Homo sapiens: one gene and its partners. The protein of the gene in region 1 interacts with the protein of each later gene in a pairwise test. Each region holds a gene or a part of one and is shown in the gene's direction. Other genes may lie near its edges.

What was found.
Region 2: the proteins of COL8A1 (region 1) and FBLN2 interact in binary tests that used the Homo sapiens proteins (3 or more experiments, as listed by UniProt).
Region 3: the proteins of COL8A1 (region 1) and CREB5 interact in binary tests that used the Homo sapiens proteins (3 or more experiments, as listed by UniProt).
Region 4: the proteins of COL8A1 (region 1) and REL interact in binary tests that used the Homo sapiens proteins (3 or more experiments, as listed by UniProt).
Region 5: the proteins of COL8A1 (region 1) and SLC35A2 interact in binary tests that used the Homo sapiens proteins (3 or more experiments, as listed by UniProt).
Region 6: the proteins of COL8A1 (region 1) and NOTCH2NLC interact in binary tests that used the Homo sapiens proteins (3 or more experiments, as listed by UniProt).
Region 7: the proteins of COL8A1 (region 1) and NOTCH2NLA interact in binary tests that used the Homo sapiens proteins (3 or more experiments, as listed by UniProt).

What each region holds. Positions count from the first base shown.
Region 1 is NC_000003.12:99,792,094-99,795,593, forward strand, and holds part of COL8A1 (collagen alpha-1(VIII) chain precursor), read left to right. Parts: intron 1-2,136; coding exon 2,137-3,500. UniProt on the Homo sapiens protein: Macromolecular component of the subendothelium. Major component of the Descemet's membrane (basement membrane) of corneal endothelial cells. Also a component of the endothelia of blood vessels.
Region 2 is NC_000003.12:13,566,125-13,569,624, forward strand, and holds part of FBLN2 (fibulin-2 isoform a precursor), read left to right. Parts: intron 1-2,615; exon of another isoform or gene 2,616-2,956; intron 2,957-3,500. UniProt on the Homo sapiens protein: Its binding to fibronectin and some other ligands is calcium dependent. May act as an adapter that mediates the interaction between FBN1 and ELN.
Region 3 is NC_000007.14:28,800,518-28,804,017, forward strand, and holds part of CREB5 (cyclic AMP-responsive element-binding protein 5), read left to right. Parts: intron 1-3,500. UniProt on the Homo sapiens protein: Binds to the cAMP response element and activates transcription.
Region 4 is NC_000002.12:60,923,074-60,926,573, forward strand, and holds part of REL (proto-oncogene c-Rel), read left to right. Parts: 3' UTR 1-3,500. UniProt on the Homo sapiens protein: Proto-oncogene that may play a role in differentiation and lymphopoiesis.
Region 5 is NC_000023.11:48,905,665-48,908,646, reverse strand, and holds part of SLC35A2 (UDP-galactose translocator), read left to right. Parts: intron 1-2,103; coding exon 2,104-2,255; intron 2,256-2,982. UniProt on the Homo sapiens protein: Transports uridine diphosphate galactose (UDP-galactose) from the cytosol into the Golgi apparatus, functioning as an antiporter that exchanges UDP-galactose for UMP.
Region 6 is NC_000001.11:149,467,121-149,470,620, forward strand, and holds part of NOTCH2NLC (notch homolog 2 N-terminal-like protein C), read left to right. Parts: 3' UTR 1-3,500. UniProt on the Homo sapiens protein: Human-specific protein that promotes neural progenitor proliferation and evolutionary expansion of the brain neocortex by regulating the Notch signaling pathway.
Region 7 is NC_000001.11:146,166,522-146,170,021, reverse strand, and holds part of NOTCH2NLA (notch homolog 2 N-terminal-like protein A), read left to right. Parts: intron 1-3,500.

The sequences.
Region 1 (3,500 bases):
TACACAATTCGCTGGTTAGAAATAGCATGCCTGAATAGTACTATAATCATATCTATTCATGTAAAGAAAGTATTCCTGACTTTCTTCTCTTTAGGAGCTAGTATTATACTTAGAAGATTATCTCAGACATTTCTTTTCCTTCCTTTATTGAATGGCTTGCCTTGCCTTTGGCACTTCTTGTACTTACTCTGATGGATCCTCATATCTCGAAATGAGTTCTCTGTTTGTATTTTATTCTCTGACAGTAGCTCAGCAAAAAGTACAATGGTCAGGATTAAGGTGCTACTAGTGACATAAGTATTATGCCAAGAAGATATTGGGACCATATATTTCATTTCTCCATGTTATCCATTAGTCCCAGCAGCATGGGAGATCCAGAGTTGTGTTCATCTGAAAGGCACAGCATGTTCATTATAACAGCACGTGCTGTGTATTTCAATAACAATTTGAGAAACGGTGACACCTTTCACATCTATTCTCTAATCTTGTAGTGTGGCTGTATTATTCTTATTCTTGCTGTACAGATAGGCAAGCAGAGATGCTGACAGCTTAAGGGACCCAGTCACAATCTCACGCCAAGACCAGAAAGATAAGCAGAGCTTCTTGTTCCTAAGTCAAGCTCTCGACTTCATCCATACTGTTTATCATTCTAAAATATCTTATTCATCTCTCCTACTTAAAAGCCAGATTTGTATATGAGAAATTATTTGTTAAATTAATGAACTAATATTTGAGGCTTAGGAAATCCCACAGCACCTTCAAGAAATTAAGCAAATCTACTAATTCTAAAGGAGAGATGTGGAAAGATGTTATTGAACCACACAAAAAATAACTCTATTCTTTCCTATTTCACATCATACTGTATTTAAGCATAAGAGGAAATATCTTGGCCATAAATTATTATATTTAAAAACTTTGCCAGGCACAGGAAGAAAAATCCTGCATATTCTCTCTTAAATGTGGAATCTAAAACAATCGAACTCATAGAAACCCAGAGGAGAATGGTGGTTACCAGAGGCCTTGGGGTGGGGCAGGAGGGAGAGAATGGAGAGATGATGATGAAAGGTTTAAAGCCTCAGTTAGGCAGGAGAAATAAGTTGTTTTTTGGATATCTATTGCATAGAATAGCGAGTATAGTTAATAATAATGTATTACACACTTCAAAATCACTGAAAGAGTAAATTTCAAATTTCTCACGAGATAAAAATAAGTATTTGAAGTGATAGATATATTTAGCTTGATTTAATTATTCCACATTGTATTCATGAATCATAGTATCACTTTGTACCCCATAAATAAAATACAACTATAATTTGGATAACAACTCCAATATTGTTTAAAATACACACACACACACACACACACAGATAGAACAAATGAGATGAAAATATATATACATGTTAAGTGGTTATCTCTGAGTAGTGGGCTTATAGGCAAATTTGATTTTTCTTTATACATCTTTGAATCTTCCAAATTCACTATAATAAACACACCATAATATCTCCAAGTTTTATACTTGGAAAAATGTTTCTTCTTCATTACTTTTTAGCTTCTTTACTTAACCAATGTTGATACAAGCAGCTTCACATATCAGTTATCAAAAAAATACCTCAAATACATAAAAAAAAATTGTCAGCTTGATTTTTCTTTCTTATTTATTTATTTTTTTCCTTTTGGAGATGGAGTTTCGCTCTTTCACCCAGGCTGGAGTGCAGTGGTGTGATCTCAGCTCACTGCAACCTCTGCCTCCTGGGTTCAAGTGATTCTCCTGCCTCAGCCTCCCAAGTAGCTGGGACTACAGGCATGTGCCACCACACCCGGCTAATTTTTGTATTTTTAGTAGAGACGCGGTTTCACTGTGTTGGCCAAGCTGGTCTCGAACTCCTGACTTCAGGTGATGCATCTGCCTGGGCCTCCCAAAGTTGTAGGATTACAGGCACGAGCCACCATGCCAGGCCTGATTTTTAAGGTCTAGAAGATGAGCATATTATTCCTAGTCTTTTCTCTTGATAAGTATTAGGCAAATGTGTCAGAACTAAATAATGGTTGTCAGTACTTCATTGATGTGAGAGACAATCTACTAATCAATCTCTCTCTCTCCCCCCATACCCCTTCTCTCTCTTCTCTTCCCAGTAGAAATACCATTAGCCAGTTTACGAGGGGAACAAGGTCCCCGTGGAGAGCCTGGCCCAAGAGGACCACCTGGGCCCCCTGGTTTGCCAGGTCATGGGATACCTGGAATTAAAGGAAAACCAGGGCCACAGGGATATCCAGGAGTTGGAAAGCCAGGTATGCCTGGAATGCCAGGGAAGCCAGGAGCCATGGGCATGCCTGGGGCAAAAGGAGAAATTGGACAGAAAGGGGAAATTGGGCCTATGGGGATCCCAGGACCACAAGGACCTCCAGGGCCTCATGGACTTCCTGGCATTGGGAAGCCAGGTGGGCCAGGGTTACCAGGGCAACCAGGACCAAAGGGTGATCGAGGACCCAAAGGACTACCAGGACCTCAAGGCCTTCGGGGTCCTAAAGGAGACAAGGGCTTCGGGATGCCAGGTGCGCCAGGTGTAAAGGGGCCTCCAGGGATGCACGGCCCTCCCGGCCCTGTTGGACTGCCAGGAGTGGGCAAACCAGGAGTGACAGGCTTCCCTGGGCCCCAGGGCCCCCTGGGAAAGCCAGGGGCTCCAGGAGAACCTGGGCCACAAGGCCCTATTGGGGTACCGGGGGTTCAAGGACCTCCTGGGATACCCGGAATTGGAAAGCCAGGCCAGGATGGGATCCCAGGCCAGCCAGGATTTCCAGGTGGCAAAGGGGAGCAAGGACTGCCAGGGCTACCAGGACCCCCAGGCCTTCCAGGGATTGGGAAACCAGGCTTCCCAGGACCCAAAGGTGACCGGGGCATGGGAGGTGTTCCTGGGGCTCTTGGACCAAGAGGGGAGAAAGGACCAATAGGTGCCCCAGGAATAGGGGGTCCTCCAGGAGAGCCAGGCCTGCCTGGAATCCCAGGTCCTATGGGCCCTCCAGGTGCTATTGGTTTTCCTGGACCCAAAGGAGAAGGTGGGATTGTAGGGCCACAGGGGCCACCAGGTCCCAAGGGTGAGCCAGGGCTTCAAGGCTTCCCAGGAAAGCCAGGTTTCCTTGGTGAAGTAGGGCCTCCTGGCATGAGGGGTTTGCCAGGTCCCATAGGGCCCAAGGGGGAAGCTGGGCAAAAAGGTGTACCAGGACTCCCTGGTGTTCCAGGGCTTCTCGGACCTAAGGGAGAGCCAGGAATCCCAGGGGATCAGGGTTTACAGGGCCCCCCAGGTATCCCAGGGATTGGGGGCCCTAGTGGCCCCATTGGACCACCTGGGATTCCAGGCCCCAAAGGGGAGCCGGGCCTCCCAGGGCCCCCTGGGTTCCCTGGTATAGGGAAACCCGGAGTGGCAGGACTTCATGGCCCCCCAGGGAAGCCTGGTGCCCTTGGTCCTCAAGGCCAGCCTGGCCTTCCAGGACCCCCAGGCCCT
Region 2 (3,500 bases), about 86 Mb from region 1:
GCTGGGACTGTCCCCCCGCAGGGAGGTCAGGCCTCCTTCCCCACCCCATCTCCAGGGGCTTCTTTTTTCAGGTTGCTGAGGGGTGGGAGCTGTCTGCAGAAGCCGGGGTTGTGGGAAAACTCAGCTGGAGCTCCCAGGAGGGGCATGTTTGATTCTGTGACCCTGCAGTGTAGAGACTGTGCCCTCCTGCTTCTCTCTTGTACGAGTGTCCCCAGCCCTGCTTGCTTATCTCTGGCGATAGATAGGGAGCTCACTCCTTCCCAGCAGCCTGGTCAGTCCCTGCCCTGGAGGGAGTGTTCTCCACTTGGAGCTGACATCTGCCATCTCCTCCATGCCCCCACCTCCCGCCCCACACATACACGCCCCATTGGGAGCAGCTGTGGAGATGTGAGGACAGTGAGGTCTGCTATTCTCCCAGGTGAGCCACCCCAAGGGGCCTGGGCCCCCTCACCACGTGGGCCACTCCCTCTCGACACATCCCAGATGGTCCTTTCCCCTCCTGAGTGGACATACAACCATCAGACAGCACCAGGATACTCTGAGCTGCATGCATTTGGGGGGGCCCAGACGACTTGGGGAACCTGGGAGCTCACACCCCATGTGACATCTCAGGGTGGCCAGAGCTCTGTGGCTTGAAACAGGAGTTGGAAACCTGAATTTTTATGTGAACGTTTTCAATTTATGCATGCTGGTAACCAATTTAAAATGAGAAACCCACTGTGTGAGCCAAACGAAAGCACTTATGGGCCAGATAATGCTGGTGGGCCCCCGACTATGACCTGAGGTATGGTGGAACACGTTCACTGGGTGGATGCAGAACCAGGGCTCAGAGAGGGCCAGGGCCGTGCCTGGGGTTGCGCAGCAAATGTGGAAAATGCAGAGTCAGGCTTGGGCCTGATGTTCTTTATCATTGCCCTGGGCCTGGAGTGGGGAGATGGGCAAGCCTGAGGTTTGGGATTGCTTAAGCATGGACAGAATGTGATGCTGGGGGCCTGGGGGGCCAAGGGGCCAGGTCACCCTGGGGGCTGTGCCGGTGAGCAGAGCAAGGGGATGGACTTGGTGGACCGGGTGGTGGGGCAGGGTGGGCTGGGAAGGAAGTTCTTCTGGAAGAAGTTCTAGGACAGCCCTGTGTCCTGTGGCTGGGGTACTGTCCTCTCAGGACACAACGTTCATGCCTAGGTGTGTGATGCACCTGAAGGCAGGAGGGCAGGGAGCTTGGGTCTCAGTTCACCAAAGATTTCCTTTTGTTTTGAGACGGGGTCTCCCTCTGTTCCCCAGGATGGAGTGCAGTGGCACGATCTCGGCTCACTCCAACCTCCGCCTCCGGGGTTCAAGCAGTTCTCCTGCCTCATCCTCCTGAGTTGCTGGGATTACAGGCACACGCCATCATGCCTGGCTAATTTTTGTATTTCTGGTAGAGACAGGGTTTCACCACGTTGGCCAGGCTGGTCTCGAACTCCTGACCTCAAGTGATCCGCCTGTCTTGGCCTCCCAAAGTGCTGGGATTACAGGCGTGAGCCACCTCGCCTGGCCAAAGATTTCCTTTCTTAAAAGACACTGTCAGCTGGCACGGTGGCTCATGCCTGTAATCCCAGCACTGTAGGAGGCTGAGGCAGGAGGGTCGCTTGAGGTCAAGAGTTCAAGACCAATCTGGGCAACACAGTGAGACCCTTGTTAAAAAAAATTAGCTGGGTGTAGTGGTGTGTGCCTGTAGTTCCACCTACTCAGAAGGCTGAGGTGGGAAGATCGCTTGAGCTCGGGAGGTTGAGGCTGCGATGAGCTATGATCACACAACTGTGCTCTAGCCTGGACAACAGAGTGAGACCCTGTCTCTAAAAACAAACAGAAAGAACTGTTGAGAGTGGACCTGAGGGCCTCTCCCTTGCAGTCTGGAGGGTCCTTGCTTTTGCTGACTGGGAGTAAAGGCCCTGATTCTCCCAGGGGCCCATTCCTAATGTCAGTGGCTTTACGGAGTCCTCCAGCTTCCTGAGGTGGCACCTCAGTGTGAGGGCAGGGGCGTCAGCCCTCGAGGCCCCAGAGGCTCCCTAGCACTCCGCCGGCCCTGAGCCTGGTCTGGGCATGGGCTTCCATCTCCCTGCCCGTCCATGGCCCTCCACCGCAGCCTTCCCTGCCTCGGTCACACAACTCCCCCTTCCAGGCGCTCCTGGACTTCTGTCTTCTGTCCGCTGCATCCTATCCATCAGCAAATCCTGTGGGTCCTACCTTCAAAATAGATCCCCTGTGCCACCATCTCCTGCCTCTCTTCGCTCACTGCCCTGGGCTCTCTCACCTGCTCCCTGCTGGCTCCCGTGTCTCAGCGCAGTGGGCAGCTGGGTGGGTCCCTTGCACTGGAGAGTCCCAGGCTCCAGCGCTTACAGGCACGCCCAGAGGCCCTCACAGCAGGCTGGAAGCCCGTTGCTCTGCAGTTACCACCCGTGTGCTGATGTGGCTCAGCCCTGGGGGCCCTCTCTGTCCTTCACCTTTCTGCTGCTGGTCCGGCCTCAGCCCCTTGGCCCTGCCACTCCCTGCCTGACGCCCTCCTCAGAGAAGCCCTCCTCTTCCGCCGGACTGACACGGGCTCCCCTGACACTGCCACGTCCTCCTTCCGTCTCCTTGATTCCCTTCATTTATTTCATCATGGGGCTCATGCCTGCCTGGCGTTCAGTTCTCTACAGATTTGCTCTTGGGTTTATTATCTGCCCCTCCACCCCTGAGGGTGTCAGTGCTGTGAGGACGCTGGGAACCTGTCTTGCTGGCTGATAAACCCCTGGTTCCTAGAGGGGCTGGGTGCAGAGGAGGCGTTCCTTTAGAAATGGGGCAGGCTTGGGGACCACTGCTGTGGTAACGAGTCCTGCTGTCCCTCTGTCACTGCCCTATGGGGCTGCGCTTTAGGCTGGGAGTCGGAGAAGGAGCTCTTGCCTGTGACTTTGGGGAGCACGCTGTCTATAAGAGTCAGGTACGGCCACTGGGTCACAAGTGGGGCTACAGGCACTGGGGACTTGGGCCAGGGTGGAGGAGGGAGGAGGCATGAGGACTGGTGAGAAGGTGGCATTTGAGTGGCTTGTGCAAGATGAGAGGGGAGAAGAGCCCTTGGGGGAGTTCAGGCCTAAGGGCCTGTGGGAGGGTCGGGTTGGGATGGCTCCTGCAGGGCCTTGAGTGCCAGGCTCAGCTGGGAATCCAGACCTTTCCTTTCTGGCCATGGGAAACTGGGGCGGGCTGTGGGGCCGTGGCATGTCGGGGCCAGCTGCTCTCAGGCCAGACTGGGTTCCCTGGGAAAGGGGAGGAGTGGTGGGCAGGGAGGTGGCGGGGCTGTTCCAGTGGAGATCAGAGCTGAGACTGGAGTGGGGACAGGGCCTAGAGATGGAAGGAAGGGGTAGAGACCGTGGGGAGGGAGTGGAGACAGATTGCGGGGAGAATGGACATGACTGGGGGAGTTGGTGGGGTGTTAGGGACAGCAAGGCATCAGGATGCATTTGCCAGTGCTACTGGGGAGGGGGACA
Region 3 (3,500 bases), on another chromosome or scaffold:
AAGTAGAGGCAGGGAGAAGGGATACATGGCCCTTATCATGTCTGTGTTTTGGAGTAGGGGAAATGTAAGTGTCAGTTCTTCACAAATACAACAAGGGAGATGAAGATGCTGAGCCCTGGACAATCCTTTCTTTGCTGCAGATGAGGTTCCTGGAAATTCTTTACCATCCACTCTCCCTTCCACTAAATTTCAGAAAGAGTGCATCCAGGTCCCTAGCTGTGTGCTGAGTAACACTTGCACGTGGCCATTGCTGGACCATTCGGCAATAACGTCTCCTCTTGTCAGCTCTTCTAGCCCCTTCTCGCGCTTTCTGCTTTTCCTTTTGATGATGGGGAGGTGGCAAAACACAGTTCATTTCTCTCTTTGGCAAAGTGTGAATGGCATGGCTTGTGGCACCTTCTCTCTTGGTTTAGAGAACAGGCTTTGGAGTTAGAGTGGCTTTGCCTCTCCTTTAGCCTTACACGGTTGTTCTGAGGATTAGGTAGCTTGATACTTGTAAAACATATAGAACAAGGACTGGCACATAGCATGTACTTAGTTAATGTTAGCCATTATTATTACCTATTTTTGCAGATATAGAAGGCTGTCAAAGATATATTGCTAAAGGGACAAAAAGCAAGATACAAAACTATGTATTAAAACAGCTTGATTTTGTGCAAAGCAAATGTCTGAGGATATGTGGTGGTTACATCTGAGGAACAGGACTGGGGTTTAGGGGAGAAGGCTAGGCAAGTGGCTTTTACTTTATTATCTAATATTTTTGTAGTAATTGATTTTTTATTATAAAAAGTATACTTTTATAGTAATGAAATTACAAGGAATAGTTTAGAAAGTCCATACTTTCCATCATGTCATTTTTTTAAAAAGGCATGATGATTTCAACATAACCTCTTTTCATATTTTTTCATCCTTAAATTCGGAAGTATCATCCAAAAACTTCTCCTGGGGGTAAAGAAACATGTATCTAAAACCCAGCAATTCCCCAGATTTTCATTTCTTTGCTGTGCCATAGTCAAATAAAAGTTTTTAAAATTACATGCTATTTTAATTCCACAGTTACAAAATTATTCTAGTTATTCTTTCATCTCTCCATATACATATATAGAGTTGTCTGGAATGCTGTTCACCCACCAGATATAAACAACGCATTTGGCTTCATTGTTGCTGACTTCATTGCAAAGCATTGCTTAAATTTTTATAATAAGCATTTTTATAAAAACAATGAAATCATTGCTTAAAATTGGAGATGAGAAGTGTTAGTTCACTTTTCTGTTTAGAAGTAAACATGGCCGGGTGTGGTGGCTCACGCCTGTAATCCCAGCTCTTTGGGAGGCCGAGGCAGGTGGATCACGAGGTCAAAAGATGGAGACCATCACAGCCAACATGGTGAAACCCTGTCTCTACTAAAAATACAAAAATTAGCTGGGCATGGTGGCACACGCCTGTAGTCCCAGCTACTCAGGAGGCTGAGGCAGGAGAATCGCTTGAACCCGGGAGGCAGAGGTTGCAGTGAGATCTTGCCACTGCACTCCAGCCTGGCGACACAGCGAGACTCCATCTGAAAAAAAAAAAAAAAAAAAAAAAAAAAGGAGGAAACACAGTACCCAGCATCTAATCTTTCCCAGACATTTAGGATGCTGAACTTCTTCAGGATTATGAAGGTCAGTAGCTGTTGTGCAGTATCTGTTGCTCATGAAAGAGGTGAGAAGTAGACTATGTGGCTACCGAATCGGGATGACAAAAATATTTTAAATGATGACCGCATATTAACATACAGTCTACCATCCTTTCCTCTTGTTTTTTATTTATTTTTTTTCTTAGCAGGTAGAGGCTCTTTATGTTTAATTAAGGATTTTGATTAATTGAATTGGTATTTTTCAATAGTGTATGTAACTGGTTGAGAATCATTAATATTGTACAGTGTTAGAGCATAGTAGCTTTGATCGTCATTTAAATACAACTGTTTCCTTGCCCAGCAATTATACACCACTATCATGAATCAGATAAGAACACAAATCTGGAAAGAACTTGCAGTCCCCTGGTAAATACTTCATGAAGGCAATGGGAGCTTGCCAATTAGACAATCATCTCTGCATAAGATATATTTCCAACGAGTAACTGCATTATACAGTCCTTAGCACATTATGCCCCTCGGGATATGATGATAATTGACTGTGTCACAGAAGAAACAATTTTGAAGAAACTGGGACTAAGCTGATTATCAACTGAATCTTTAGAACGGGGTTAGCAAATGATGGCCCAAGGGCCAAATCTGGCCCGCTGCCTAATTTTGTCCAGTGTATGAGCTAAGAATGGTTTTCAAGTTTTAAGTGACTGGGGAAAAAAATCAAAAGTAGAATAACATTTCTGACATGTAAAAATTATATGAAATTCAGATTTCCTGTCCCTGAAGTTGTATCAGAACATAGCAGATTCATTCATTTATACATTGTCTGCAGCTGCTTTTGCACCACAGTATCAGAGTTGAGTAGTTGTGACACAGAAGATAAGAGAAGAAAATACTGACTATCTGACTCTTTATAGAAAAAGTTTGCTGACCCCTCCTTTAGACTCAGGTACAAGTTATTTGTGTGCATGTCTGCTTATGAATGGATAATGCTTTTGTGTTAGAAATACATCTGGCCAGTTGATGTGGCCATCAAAGGAGGTGCAATACTTCATATTCTTCTATTTTCCTCACTCCCTTCTCAAAGTCAAAAGAAAGCTATTGAGTGAGAAAAATTAAGAGTATTGGAAGGGACCATAAGAAAAATCATGGTAACAGAAAAGACCTACACATTACCTCCGAAGCTTGTAAATTACTAACTCTAATTTTAAGCCCTAAAATCAGATTAGCTCTCTACTTTTTAAAATTTGAAATTATTTATTCTCTGTGTCTGAGAAATATTTTGAGAGGCAAGAGCATTTGTTCTTGTGACTCTTACAAGATACAGTGGCTGGCCGGGCACGGTGGCTCACGCCTGTAATCCCAGCACTTTAGGAGGCCGAGGCAGATGGATCACGAGGTCAGGAGTTCAAGACCAGCCTGGCCAAGATGATGAAACCCCATCTCTACTAAAAATACAAAAATTAGCTGGGCATGGTGGCAGATGCCTGTAATCCCAGCTACTCAGAAGGCTGAGGCAGAGAATTGCTTGAAGCTGGGAGGCGGAGGTTGCAGTGAGCCGAGATCGCACCACTGCACTCCAGCCTGAGTGACAGAGCAAGACTCCATCTCAAAAAAAAAAAAAAAAAAAAAAATTAAATACAGTAGCACACCAGATGGAGTCTCTTTGTTCAGTGCTATCACCATATTGAATGGTGCTCTTTGGTGTATGCTTGCATTCAGTTGTAGATACGATATAATGCATGATTGGATAATAGGAAATACCTTTTAGTAGAATGTATGATTCTTGATAGGATATCCTGCCCATTGGCTTTGACAGTTGAATTAACCTATTTGGCTGACATTGACCCTCCTACTGACCACGATATATAAG
Region 4 (3,500 bases), on another chromosome or scaffold:
TTTATATTTCTTTTTATAATGTTTTAATGTATTCTTAAATTTCAAGCAAATTTAAGATAAAACTTGTAATGGCTATGCCATTGAAAAACTTAATTTTTTATTTTTGAGGCCCATGGGCCAAGGTAACCCCTAAGGGGTTTTCTTAGGCTTCTTGGAGCTTAGATTTGTATGTATATCAAAATGTCTTTAAAATGTTAAGTTGGGCAGAAGGCAGTTGAAGTGAGCTTTCAAGGTATGGGAGGTTTTCTACATTTTATACTATTTCAATCTATGCCTTTAAAGTTGCTTATGATTTTAGCTGTACACTCATTTTTTAAGGGGAAGAAGTTTCCTTGGACCATTCGCCTTTCTTAGATGTCCTCACTCCCTGTGATCTCATAAAACTGCCTATTTGACATCTCTATCTAGAAATCTAATTAAAGCTCACACTCAGCATATCCAAAACTGAATTCTTGGTCTTCCCTCCCAAACTTGCTTCTCCTTCAGTCTTCTCCAACTCAGTAAATGGCAATGCCATACTTCTGGTTGCTCAGGCCAAAAACCCTGAAGTCATCCTTGATTCTTCTTTTAGCACCCATATCCAATCCATTAGCAAATCTGGTAGACCCTACCTTCACAATATATCTAAAGCTGACCACCTCTTTTGACCTCTACTATTAACGCCCTATTCCAAGCCACCATCATCTCTTCCCTGGATTGAAGCTGTCATCTACAAAAATTCTTCTTATATCCTTGCATTCCTACAGTCTGTTCCCCATAAAGTAGCCAGAATGATTATTTTTAAAACAAGTCAACTCATACCATTCATCTGCTCAAAACCATTCATTGGCTTCTCATCTCACTCAGAGCAGTCAAAGTCCTTAAAAGTTGCAGGCCTAGACTCCCTGTCCTACCTCAGGTACCACCATATCCCACCTCCTCATGCAGCTCCAGGCACCTTGGCCTCAGTGCTCCTCAAAGCATCAAGTATGCACTTGCCTTGGACAGTCTGTACTTGGTATTCCCTCTGCCTTGAATGTTGTTCTCCCAGAAAAATGCATAGTTCACTCTTACATCCTTCAGGTGTCACTCCACTGTTACCTGAGCAGGTCGTCCTTGAATATATACATCAGCATTCCCTTTCCCCCCTGCTTTATGTATGTCCATAGCACTCACCACGATCTGACTTTACTAAGTATTTATTCATTTACTGTTTGTTTTCCCATACCGAAATATAAACTTTCTAAGGACAGAAATTTTTGTGCTTTATTGTTGAATCTCCAATTTGTAGAAAAATGCCTACCTTATATTAAACACTCAGTAAATGTTTATTGAACATTAAAAGTATTACTAATAGAACTTTGGTTTTTGAAAGAAATAATAACTTTAATTATAAGACGTATATGATTTTTGCAGTTTTACTTAGTGTGACATTGGGTTTATGAGAATCGTGTACATTCAAGTCCAGGAATAATAATGGTCATCCAAATTGTTTGAAAGGAAAATAATCCCAGTGGCAAAATGATGGTAGAATTTGGGTAATCTTTTTTTTCCTTTTATGAAAAGAGATTTTATTGAAGGTAAAACATTAGAGGTTCATTGAGAATCTCTAAATCCATGTTTTGACATTGTCAAGCTCATTGCAACTTCCAGATTGAGTAACACTTATAACACATTTCCTTTTCAAAGTGCAAGATTTTTAAAAGAGACTTGTCACATATTCATTTGGCTGGTTTCAAATGGTGAGCTGAATGCTGGGTAATCTCTACTAGCTCCTTAATCAGATTTAAAATTCTCAGTGTTTCCTAGTTGTTTCTGCATACTTTATGTGAGTTGTTATAGCTGTAACATTACACTTTATTTGCTGTTTGTGTTTCGTGACTTTTGGTAATTCTGGCATTTAGAAACCTTTCACTTTGCTTCAAAACGTAGTTATATTTTGGAGTTTTCATTTGATATATAATTATTTATTTTGCCCTTTTATTTCCCAAAGACATTGTAAGGGTTAATTAGATCATTATATTTTATTATTACAGATTAAAGTTGGGCAGTAATCTTAATTATGATGGAATTATCATTATGCTAAGTAATTAACTTTACCTAGTTTGTTTTACAACTAGAACCTGCCCTAAATGTTGAATATCTTCCTAGCAAGAAACAGTCTGTCATTTTACTTACACGATGTCTAACCAAACCATAACTTTACATAAACTAGTCGTTTCGGTCAAATAGAAAAATGTGTGAATGCCATAAAAACAAAAATTCTCAGTTAAATGATACTGGGAAATAGGGAAGACAGCAAAGTGAGACTTGGGCTCAGGATGGTTCAGGAAGAAAAAAAAAGAAAGACCCCTGAGTACCATTAATATTCCTCAGAAATTATTATTTCAAAAGGAAATATTTCTGTATTATAAATTTTTCATGAGCAGCCATTATGAAATCTCACAAGAATCATAGAATTCAATAAAAAAGGTAGAAAGTAATTTTTTTACTTAAAAATATAAATTAAAATAAATTTTTAAAATCATAAGCACATAAATAGAACTTACCAGGGAGAAAGAAAAACCTGAAGGCACAATTTCTTTTCTGTTCAAAATGTGAACCCAGGATGTCTCTAGATGATGATGGATGATAGGTGGGGAGATTTTTTTTTTTTTTAATACAGAATCTCATAGTTTTGGATTAATTAGCACCAATCAGTTTAAACACTGACTGTTAGAATAGCTGCATGGGTTTTTTTCTTTAAACTAATTAAGCGTTGGCTACTTAGTATAAGTAAGTATAAGCCGAATTAAGGTTCTGCTACATCTGTGTTTAGAATATTTTTTTAAAACTAAATAAGTGTTGGCTAGTTTTGCGGTGTAAGCAGAATTAAGGTTCTGCTACCTCTGTGTGTAGAATATTCCCAATGGATTTTTCATTTTTCAGGTGCTATTTTTTGACCCTGTATAGACTTTAATTTAAAATGAATTTGGTAACGTTTCTCCTCTGTCTCTACATATATTCATGCTTTCACCTGCTCTTTTAACACCTGCTTTTAGTATCTGAGGCACTTTTTCTGAACTCTACTTGTGCACTGGATCCCTCCTCCTTTCTCTGCCAGGCTGTGTTTACTTTATCCTTACATCACCACTTAGTGATTCCTTTCTTTGTATAAACATGGTAAATGTCTTCATTAGCCTAAAAGGAAAGACCAAATAAAACCTTTCCTACCACTTGGATGCATTTGCATCCTGACTTCTGAAATGCCTCCAGCCTCCATTTTCTCCCTTCCCAGTTATTCCTTAGCCCAGCCATCTCTGTCTTTAGCTCCTACAATTTTCTTAGGATATTCTGGGAAAGATGAGCGGAGACTGCCCGCCTTGTCAAATCTAGTGTCTTTTTTTCAGTCCTCACACTGCTTGACCTATGTATAACCTCCTATACTTCCCTCTTTGCATACTCCTCTGGGTTTTCTGTGGTAGTCAAGATTCCTCCCTGAGATTTATTTCCCATGAGTCTTGACCCCTCCCCTCAGTTGG
Region 5 (2,982 bases), on another chromosome or scaffold:
TAACAGATAGCCACAGACTTAATCACAGGCCTTCATCTCTTAGCCACAATTTCAGCACCCCTCTCTCCCCTGCCCGGAATTTTTTTCCCCTGAATTCGAGTTTGGAGACCAGGAGTGCACAGGGTTTGGTGAATGAACATCAGTAGGAGTTCCTGGGACAACCTTGTTCAGTGTTTGAAGAAGTTTTGCCTGTGGAGTGACACCCAGCTGTGACTTAAAAGATGAACTGCTGGCTGGGCGTGGTTGCTCACGTCTGTAATCCCAGCACTTTGGGAGGCCGAGAGGCAGGTGGATCACAAGGTCAGGAGTTAGAGACCAGCCTGGCCAAGATGGTGAAACCCCGTCTCTACTAAAAATACAAAAATTATCCAGGCGCGGTGGCAGGTGCCTGTAATCCCAGCTACTAGGGAGGCTGAGGCAGGAGAATTGCTTGAACCCGGGAGGCAGAGGTTGCAGTGAGCCAAGATCACACCACTGCACTCCAGCCTGGGCGACAGAGCAAGACTCCTCACCCACCCACCCCGCCCCGCCAAAAAAAAAGATGAACTGCCAAAAAGTGGGGCGAGCTTTGCAAAGGCCTTGTTACATAGGAAATGATTCTCATGTTTTTTGTTTGTTTGTTTTGAAATGGAGTTTTGCCCTTGTTGTCTGAGCTGGAGTGCAATGGCACGATCTTGGCTCACTGCAACCTCCGCCTCCCGGGTTCAAAAGATTCTCCTGCCTCAGCCTCCTGAGTAGCTGGGATTATAGGCGCCTGCCACCACACCCGGCTAATTTTTGTATTTTTAGTAGAGACGGGGTTTCACCACGTTGGCCAGCCTGGTCTCGAACTCCTGACCTCAGGTGATCCACCCACCTTAACCTCCCAAAGTGTTGGGATTACAGGCGTGAGCCACTGCGCCCAGCCCGATTATCATGTTTTCACTGGAGCAGGTCCCAAGCGGACTTCTGCTTAATGGTCAAGCCTGCATTCATCCATGTGGCAGAGGCAACTCTGTGTCTAGGGCTGACAGAAAGATGCAACAAGGGGGAGATGGCCCCTGCCCTCAGACGGCACATGGGTCAGTGAGGAGCTAGGATAAGTCTAAAAGTCTAGACTATGCCTGGTGTGGTGGCTTACACCTGTAATCCCAGAACTTTGGGAGGCCGAGGTAGGCGGATCACGAGGTCAGGAGATCAAGACCATCGTGGCTAACACGGTGAAGCCCCATCTCTACTAAAGATACAAAAAATTAGCTGGGAGTGGTGGCACGCGCCTGTAGTCCAAGCTACTTGGGAGGCTGAGGCAGGAGAATGGCTTGAACCTGGGAGGTGGAGCTTGCAGTGAGCCGAGATCGCGCCACTGTGCCAAAAAAAAAAAAAGTCTAGACTAAACTCTTCTGTGTGGGAGACAGCCCTCCACCCCAGCTCCTAGGGCTTCTATTTCATAAGCTCCAAGTTAATGATGGTTATTTCTTTCTTTCTTTTTTTTTTTTTTTGAGATGGAGTCTCACTCTGTTGCCCAGGCTGGAGTGCAATGGCATGGTCTCAGCTCACTGCAACCTCCACCTCCCAGGTTCAAGCAATTCTCCTGCCTCAGCCTCCCAAGTAGCTGGGATTACAGTCGCTTGCCACCACACCTGGCTAATTTTTGTATTTTTAGTAGAGATAGGGTTTCAGTGTTGTTGGCCCAGCTGGTCTTGAACTCCTAACCTCATGAGCCACCTGCCTTGGCCTCCCAAAGTGCTGGGATTACAGGCGTGAGCCACGGCACCTGGCCTAATGCTGGTTATTTCATTGTACACAAATATATTGAGTATTGAGTGCTTTCCCTGAATGGGGCTCTCTGCCAGGGAGGTAGGCTCTAACATGAGTGACATGCTCTGTGATTAGCAGACACGGATGGCTGATTCTTTTGCTGCCATTAAACTGAGTCTCAGAAAAGCTTGCTGGAAACATGGTTGTACTCTAGGGAAAACCAAGATCACATACTTCATTCCAGCCTCCAGGGATTGGACAGCAGGGTGGATGGGGGAGTCACAGGAGCAAGGCCTGTTCCCAGCCTTCAGGGGTTCCCCATGTATGGCTGTCAGTGCTAAGAAGGGCTCTCCTCCTCCCACCTAGGTAACGTGAAGCACCTGGTTCTCTTCCTCCATGAGGCTGTCCTGGTGCAGTATGTGGACACGCTCAAGCTCGCAGTGCCCTCTCTCATCTACACCTTGCAGAATAACCTCCAGTATGTTGCCATCTCTAACCTACCAGCTGCCACTTTCCAGGTGAGCCCCAAGCCCAGCATGGCCCCAGAGGAACTAACTGGGTTGGGGACTGGAGTATGGGAATAGCGTGGTGGGGGGGTGTTGCAGAGGACAGGGGCTATGTCACCTTCAGAATGTCCTTGGAACTCCTTCAACCTCCCTTTTCTCGTCTGTGAAAATTGGGGGTGGAAATAGTAATGCCTGTTCACTGAGATGCTAGGATACTTAAAAGAAATAATACCTGTGAAGAGCCCTTGATTGGTGACAGATAAGCTTTAGGCTATTTGTGGGCAGCTTTGTGAAATGGTTAAAGAGCCTGGATTCTGGGGCCAGGCTGTCTGGGTTCAAATCTCAGCTCTGCTACCTTCCAGCTGTGTGATTTTGGGGCACGTCACCTAACCTCTCTGTGCCTTAGTTTTCTCACCTTTAAATTGGGGCTTACAGTGGTGCTCACTTCAGAATGGTGTTGTGAGAATTAAATGAATGAATTCACGTGCAGTGCCTAGAACCACACTGATATATTGTAAGCACTATGTAAGTATTTGCTGACATTGTTGTGGCTATTGATTCATTTGTATCAAGTCCCTCATCACAAAGATACTTCCATACCTCAGCCATCTTTTATAGATGATGATGCCAGGGCTCAGACAGGGCAAGTGCTTTGTCCCCAGTCACACAGCCAGGAAATGGGATTGGGATGTGGACTTCTTGGCACAGCCATCCTTTTGTGCACTTGCTGGGAGAGACT
Region 6 (3,500 bases), on another chromosome or scaffold:
GCTGACTGACTGTATGGTTTAGTATCATGTCATAGTATTGAGACTGTAACTTTGGTCTTCTCATTTTCTTCTTTGTATTGTGCGTCCTAGACTTAGTTTGGCCTCTCCTTTTGTCCTTGTATACTCTAATACTGGATAAGAATTTTGGAGTCTTTTTCAACTCTGAGTCAGTGAATGCCACATAACTTAGTGACTATATTTAAATGGTTAATTTACAATTTTTTCCCTGCAAAGGATACTGTAGTCACTGTGAGTATTTTAGTATTACTGTAGGACTCAAGAGGGAATTAAAACTACAAAAATGACGCGTCTTGTATGACACAGAAAGAAATGTTTCTTCACAGAGGGAGGAGAAAAATATCTTCAAGAGAGAACTAATAGAATCAAATCAATGAACCATGTCTCATCTTTTTGGATAAGTAACTGTTAGTAATCCAGACACTTCATGAGCTTTCATTATGTAAAGTCTTTAGCAGAAGCTAAAGGAGGGGCACCAACCACAGTAATTTTAACTTAAGAACAAAATGGAGCATGAAAATAAATTATTAAATCATTTACTCCCACTATTTTTGGGTTAGGGCCAATAATGGGGAGAGAAAGAGGTAGACTAGTTTTGTGTTTGTGGCTATTTTAATAGAGTAGCACAAGTAATCAAAAAACAGTAGGCTGTTTTGAATTTACTGGCTGTCCCTTATGAGTTCACAGTTAGATTGGACTGTCCTCAATGTACTTTCTTTTTTTTCTTTCTTTCCCACATCTCTTTATTTCTCTGATTTTGTTTAAACTTCATAAAGAGCTCTCTGATCTTTCCTTTCCAAACAATGAAGGTTTATCCTTTGTAAACTACCTCTGTACTCCACAGGCTGATGATATGTGATATCCCTATATCATTAAAGTAAAGCCTAAGCACATTCTGTGGCTTTTGTGTCTACTCTGTTGTTGCTGAGCTTATGAACTATTAGAAATAACTCCCTCTTGCATTTTCACACATGGGGAATGTGATGTTCTCTTGGGTATTATGCTAATCATATTTTGGCAGGTTTCTCTGGAGCAGATGCAGAAATGATCATACCACTTTCCAGGGTGTATTATTTTAGCTCCTTTGACTTGGGCCCTAAGTCTGTTTTACCTGATGTTCCTGAAAGATGTTCCTGATGTCCTTCACTGTTCTTTCATGCTGGATGTTCTTGCCTATGCTGCCTCCTCAGCTATCACCCTCTCTTCCCCTTTTTAATGTAGAACTCATTCTTAATGATTTGTCAAAGGCACCCTATTTCACTGAAATGCCTTCTATATTCCCTACCCTCCAAGTGGATTGTAGACCTTCTAAGGTCTTTTGACATCTGCATATCTCTAGCACAGCACTTACCACGGTGATTATTTATCTGTTCATCTTTCCAAGTAGACACTCTCATTTTAACTCCCTACCCTAGTCGCCAGCATCCCCAGCATAGTGCCTGTCATAAAATGGTGCCACAATGAAAATTTGAAAAATGAATGAACGTGATAAACATAGATGAGAATCCTATATTCTACAATTTTTTAAATGTACTGAAATTATTCTTTTTGAATCCTCCTATTTATTTCTGTGACTTCTTTGGTGACAAAGTTAGAAAAAAGTGGAGGTCAGTAGGGAGATATGAAGGGACGCAAGTGGAAGCAGTGAGCCTGGGCGGGTGATGGAGTGGGAGATACGTGGCACAGGGGTCAGTGAGTTAATCTGGGCTCATTCAGAGAATGGAAGGTGTGTGCCAAGAAAACTGGTTGGATAGGGATAGGTCAGGGATTCCCTCTTGCATTCTCACACTTGGGGGCATGTGTCATTTTCTTTTCTTTTCTTTTTTTTTTTTTTTTTTTTTTTTGAGACGGAGCATCGCTCTTTCTCCCAGGCTGGAGTGCAATGGTGCTATCTCGGCTCACTGCAACCTCCACCTCCCGGGTTCAAGCTATTCTCATGTCTCAGCCTTCCAAGTAGCTGGGACTACAGGTGCCTGCCACCATGCTCAGCTAATTTTTGTATTTTTAGTAAAGATGGGGTTTCACCATGTTGGTCAGGTTGGCCTCGAACTCCTGATCTCAGGTGATCCACCTGCCTCGGCTTCTCAAAGTGCTGGGATTCCAGGCATGAGCCACCATGCCTGGCCGCATGTGTCATTTTCTTGGGTGTTATACTGATCGTATATTTGCAGGTTTGCTTTTGTGACAGACTTCTTCTGGGGGAAAAAAAGTATCCTTCTATCTTTTTACTTTTGTCCAGTTCCAGGTATCCCTGTTTTTTTCTTCACTCTTCCTTCCTTGTTCATGGGAGTTTTTCTTGAGGACTTCAAGCCCAGCTTCGGAGAATCCTGGTTGTGTCATCTCATCTCCTTTCTGCTCTCTTCTCTACCTAGCCTTTCCACCCTCACACCTCCCGGGGTCTGAAAATGGAAAGATAAGGGTGTTTCCCTGAAAGTTGCTCTTCTGTGTGGGGATGACAGGTTCTAAAGACTCTTTTCTGGTCCCTGCCCTCATTGCCATGATTAATCAGTTAAGTGGCCCGAGGTTTTGTAACAGCACAGTCTTAAAATGCTTCTCCCAAGTTTAATTTCTCTCCATTTGACCTTTTAAGGATGTGAATTGGCTTTAAGCAGTAGACTCCCTTTAGTACGGCGCTGTGAGCCTCTCAGTGAATCTGCTACATCCATTCCACCCACGGGTCTGGAAACTTGTCTGTTTACCTTTCCCTAAAAACCTAAGATATATTTTTAAGAAGTGCCTTGTAACTTTTCATATAGCCTTTCCCCTACTTTGGGTAGACTGTTTCTTACAGGAATTTGGTAGATCTTTCCAAAGAGAATTCTGTATCTCTATTTTTAAAGCATAAATCCTGTCAACTTTGGAGGAGAACTGATTTGGCTTGAGTTTTCTCAGACATGGGAACTTTTGACCTAAGTTTGTATTTTACATTGTTGAAAGGGAACTCCGGGATCCCAGAAAACATATGGACTGCAATTGGGTAAAGTTTCTGTTTCAGTACTTATTCCTACTTACTAGCCGTTTAATCTTGGTCAAGTCAGCCATGTGGCTCTCAACTTCCTCATCTGTAACATAAAAGGATTAGAGCAGACAATCTCTAACAAATGCTATAATACCACTGACAAATAATAATATTAGCTAATATGTGTAAGGCACTGTGTTTAGTGCTTTTTCCCTTAATACAATAGCTTTGAGATATAATTTATATACCATACAATTTACTTCTTAAAAAAGTACACAATTCAGTAATTTTAATAGATAGGAGTAACCATCACCACAGTCAATTCTAGAATATTTTTATACATCAGAAGAAACCCTTTACCCATTATCAATTACTCTCCATTCCTCCTAACTCCCTCCCAGCCCTAGGCAACTACTAGTCTACTTTCTGTCTTTATTTGCCTCTTCTGGACATTTCATACAAATGGAAACATGCAGCATGTAGTAATTTATGACAGCTTCTTTCACTTAGCATGAGGTTTTCA
Region 7 (3,500 bases), on another chromosome or scaffold:
AATCCTATGAAGTAGGCACTGTTATTACATCTCTTTTACGACAGGGAAGTTTAGTACCTTGCCCAAGACTACACATTGAGTAAATGGTGGAGTTGGGATTGAAATCCAGGTGGTCTGGTTCCAGAGTCTGTACTCTTAAGAGCAGAACAATAATAACTCCAAGCATTTATTAAATTCTCAAGATTTATCCGGCACCATGCTACATGCTTGTATTCAAGCAGAGGCTGGTGATCATCTTTTAGAAATATTTTAGAAATGATTACTTAATTGGATAGAAATTAAATTTCTTGAATCTGAAGGTTCTGTTATTCCAAGGATGGCTGGAAATGGGGGAAAAGCCAGCAACAAGATGATGTCTGGCCTGAGGCTTTTAAGATGATCAGAATTTGTATCAAAAAGGAAACTGTGAACACGAATGATAAGTATTATAGGAATTCAGTTAACAAGTCTTGTCAGAATGTGGTAATAAATTATATACAACTTAAAGAGATGAAGTTACTTTAAATTGTGTGTGGAAGCCTTAGAAAAATTGAATAATTAAAGTTTCTTGGGAAGATGATCTCCTTTTACAAATGTTTAGTTTCAAATAGTGGCAGCACATATTAGGATAGAGAGATGACTTCTAGAAAACTGAACATATGGGACTGGAACAGTGTATTTTGGAGTCAGTTACAGGAAGGAAGTTGTTTAAAACCAAGTGAACAACAACAGTAACAAATGCATTTGAGAGAAAGAGCAGTGCAGTCCAGACTTAAACATTAGGGTGGCCATAATAGATGGGGAAGAAGGAGAAATCAGCAATCCAGACTAAGACTTCACTGGGTTTTGAGTTAGACAGAGGGAGGCATAGAAGCCAAGGTAAAATGATTAAAACGGTACATGGAGTGGTTAGCAATTCTCCCTATAGGAGAGAGAATTTCCTTATGAAGTTTCAGATGAGACCACTGAACTTGACTAGAGGAAAGTCATTGTTTTTAGAAAACAGTTTCTAAACAATAATTAGAATTAAAGTTTTGTTGCAGAGGGATAAGTAAGAAGTAGATGGAAAAGAAAGAGGAATATCTGAAATTAGGCTACAGTCATAGAAGGTTAGCTGTGAAACAATAATTTGGAAAGGGAAATGGGACCTCATGAAAGTGTGGGTTAAAAGAGACTTGTATATCTTCTAAGGTAAAAGTAAAGAACTAAGCTGATGTCCAGCCCTCTAAAACATTTTAAATAGAAATCAAACTTTATTAATACAGTAGGTCTAGTTTCACGTAAAGCAAATATATGGTTCTGTACACGGGCTTTAGGAGAGTAAGTCTGTTGTACCTCATATGTAAGTATTATCCCATTTAGAGGAAAACCCTAAGTCTTTCTTTACAGTGGCTTAAAGGCCCCAATTGATCCACATCCCAGTTACAGCTCTCATCTATTTTCTGCTGCTCCAGATATTCTTGCTGTTTCTCAAACACGCTAGGGCTGCTCTCTGTGTTATGGCCTTTGCATTTGCTGTTCCCTTTCTCATGAATGTGTTTTCCTAAGATACCTGCATGATTACTCTCACCTTATTTAGGTCTCAACTCAAGTATTGTCAGTGAAGGTCTTCTCTGATTTTCCTATTCTAAACTGAGATACTTCTCTTTGCTCACCCCACACCCTCATCCCCAGCTCCATTCCTTCCTGTTTAATTTTTTTTCACAGCACTTAACTCCATCTATTGTGCATCTTTTACTTAGTAATTTTGTTTTCGTCTTCCGCTATTAGAATGTAAACTCCAAGAGTGTAAGAATTTTTCTAGCACTGGAAAAATGCCTGGCACATAATAGGCATTTACTAATTGTTGTGTGAATGAACGATTATAAGTTTAATATTCTTTGTGGAAACTAATAAGGTTGATTTCCTATCAGAAACCGATCATTATTAATAAGCATATTGGATGGTATTTATAGAATTAGCCTTCATATGTTCTCTACTCAGAAGTTGGCAAACTTTTTCTGTAAAGTGCCAGAGAGTAATTATTTTTGCAGGCTTTGTGGTCTCATTACAGCTACTTGACTCTGTTGTTGTAGTGGAAAATCAGCCATAGACAATCTATAAATGAATGAGCATGGCTGTGTTCCAGTAAGACTATTTATGGACACTGAAATTTGAATTGTATATAATTTTGAAATGTCAGAAAATATCCTTCTTTTGTTCTTTTTTTCTAATCATTTAAAAATGTAAAAAACTATTCACAGGCCAAACAAAAACAGGCAGTGGTCCAAATTAGACTTGCAAACTGTACTTTGTCAATCTCTGGTTTTACTGATTTCTTAAATATATCTTAGGTTAAAACTTATTTTTCCATACTTGATAGGGAGCAACAATGTGAATTAAACTGTAGAAACAAATAATTCAGAAATACATCTGTTTAGCTTTAGAAACTTCCATTTTGCTTCATTTTTGTTTTCCTGGGAACCTTATATTTCCATTATATGTTTATGATGCTACCATTTAAATGACTTTGCATTCTCTTAGCATATGCCACATGATAGTGTTAGGGTGGTGTAATAGTTCAGGAGCAAAGCTGAGCAAAGCCCACCCACGTTTAAAAATTTGCCATTATTTAGAAGGTGCATAATTCCCATATGGGAGAATGAAGAGTCATCTAATAATGCCCAGAGGGCTGCACTGTGAGTGAGAATTGTGTTGCAGTTTTTAACATTCATAACACATTTCTTGAATAAGCTGCAAATGCTTTTAATAATATATCTCAGAGTTAATTTTAGCTATGCTACATTGGCACTTTTTGCTCCTCCACTTCAAAAAACCAACACAAGAAACTATTCTCAAATCAAGCTGTGATTTGGATGGGGCATTGTATTTTCCTCAATAAGCACAAAGAAGAGAGAAAAGATGTTTTCACTTGGCAAAACTTTTTTTTTTGAGATGGAATCTCACTCTGTTGCCCAGGCTGGAGTGTAGTGGCACAATCTCGTCGGCTCACTGCAACCTCCGCCTCCCGGGTTCAAGCAATTCTCATGCCTCAGCCTCCCGAGTAGCTGGGATTACAAGCGTGCACCACCACCCTGGCTAATTTTTGTATTTTTAGTAGAGCCAGGGTTTCACCTTGTTGGCCGGGCTATTCTCAAACTCCTGACCTCAGATGGTCCTCACACCTCAGCCTCCCAAAGTGCTGGAATTACAGGTGTGAGCCACTGTGCCCAGCCCACTTGCAAAACTTTTTAACATTTATAAGGTTTTTTACATACTTGATTTTGTTCAGTTCTTAGAATAATCTCATGATGTAGGTGACCTTATTAACTATTTACAATGTGAGAAAATGGATAGTCAATGAAGATAAGTAACTTGTCCAAGGTCACAGCACCAGAACTCCAAACCAGACCTTCTGACCTTCTTGATACAGACTCCTCACAGTCACCTGCATGCCATCTTTGGTTTCAGTGCTATGAACTTTCTTCACTGCCTGTTGGTCTGTAGCTACACCTACTCATGAAGATGCCCAGAGCCTTAGC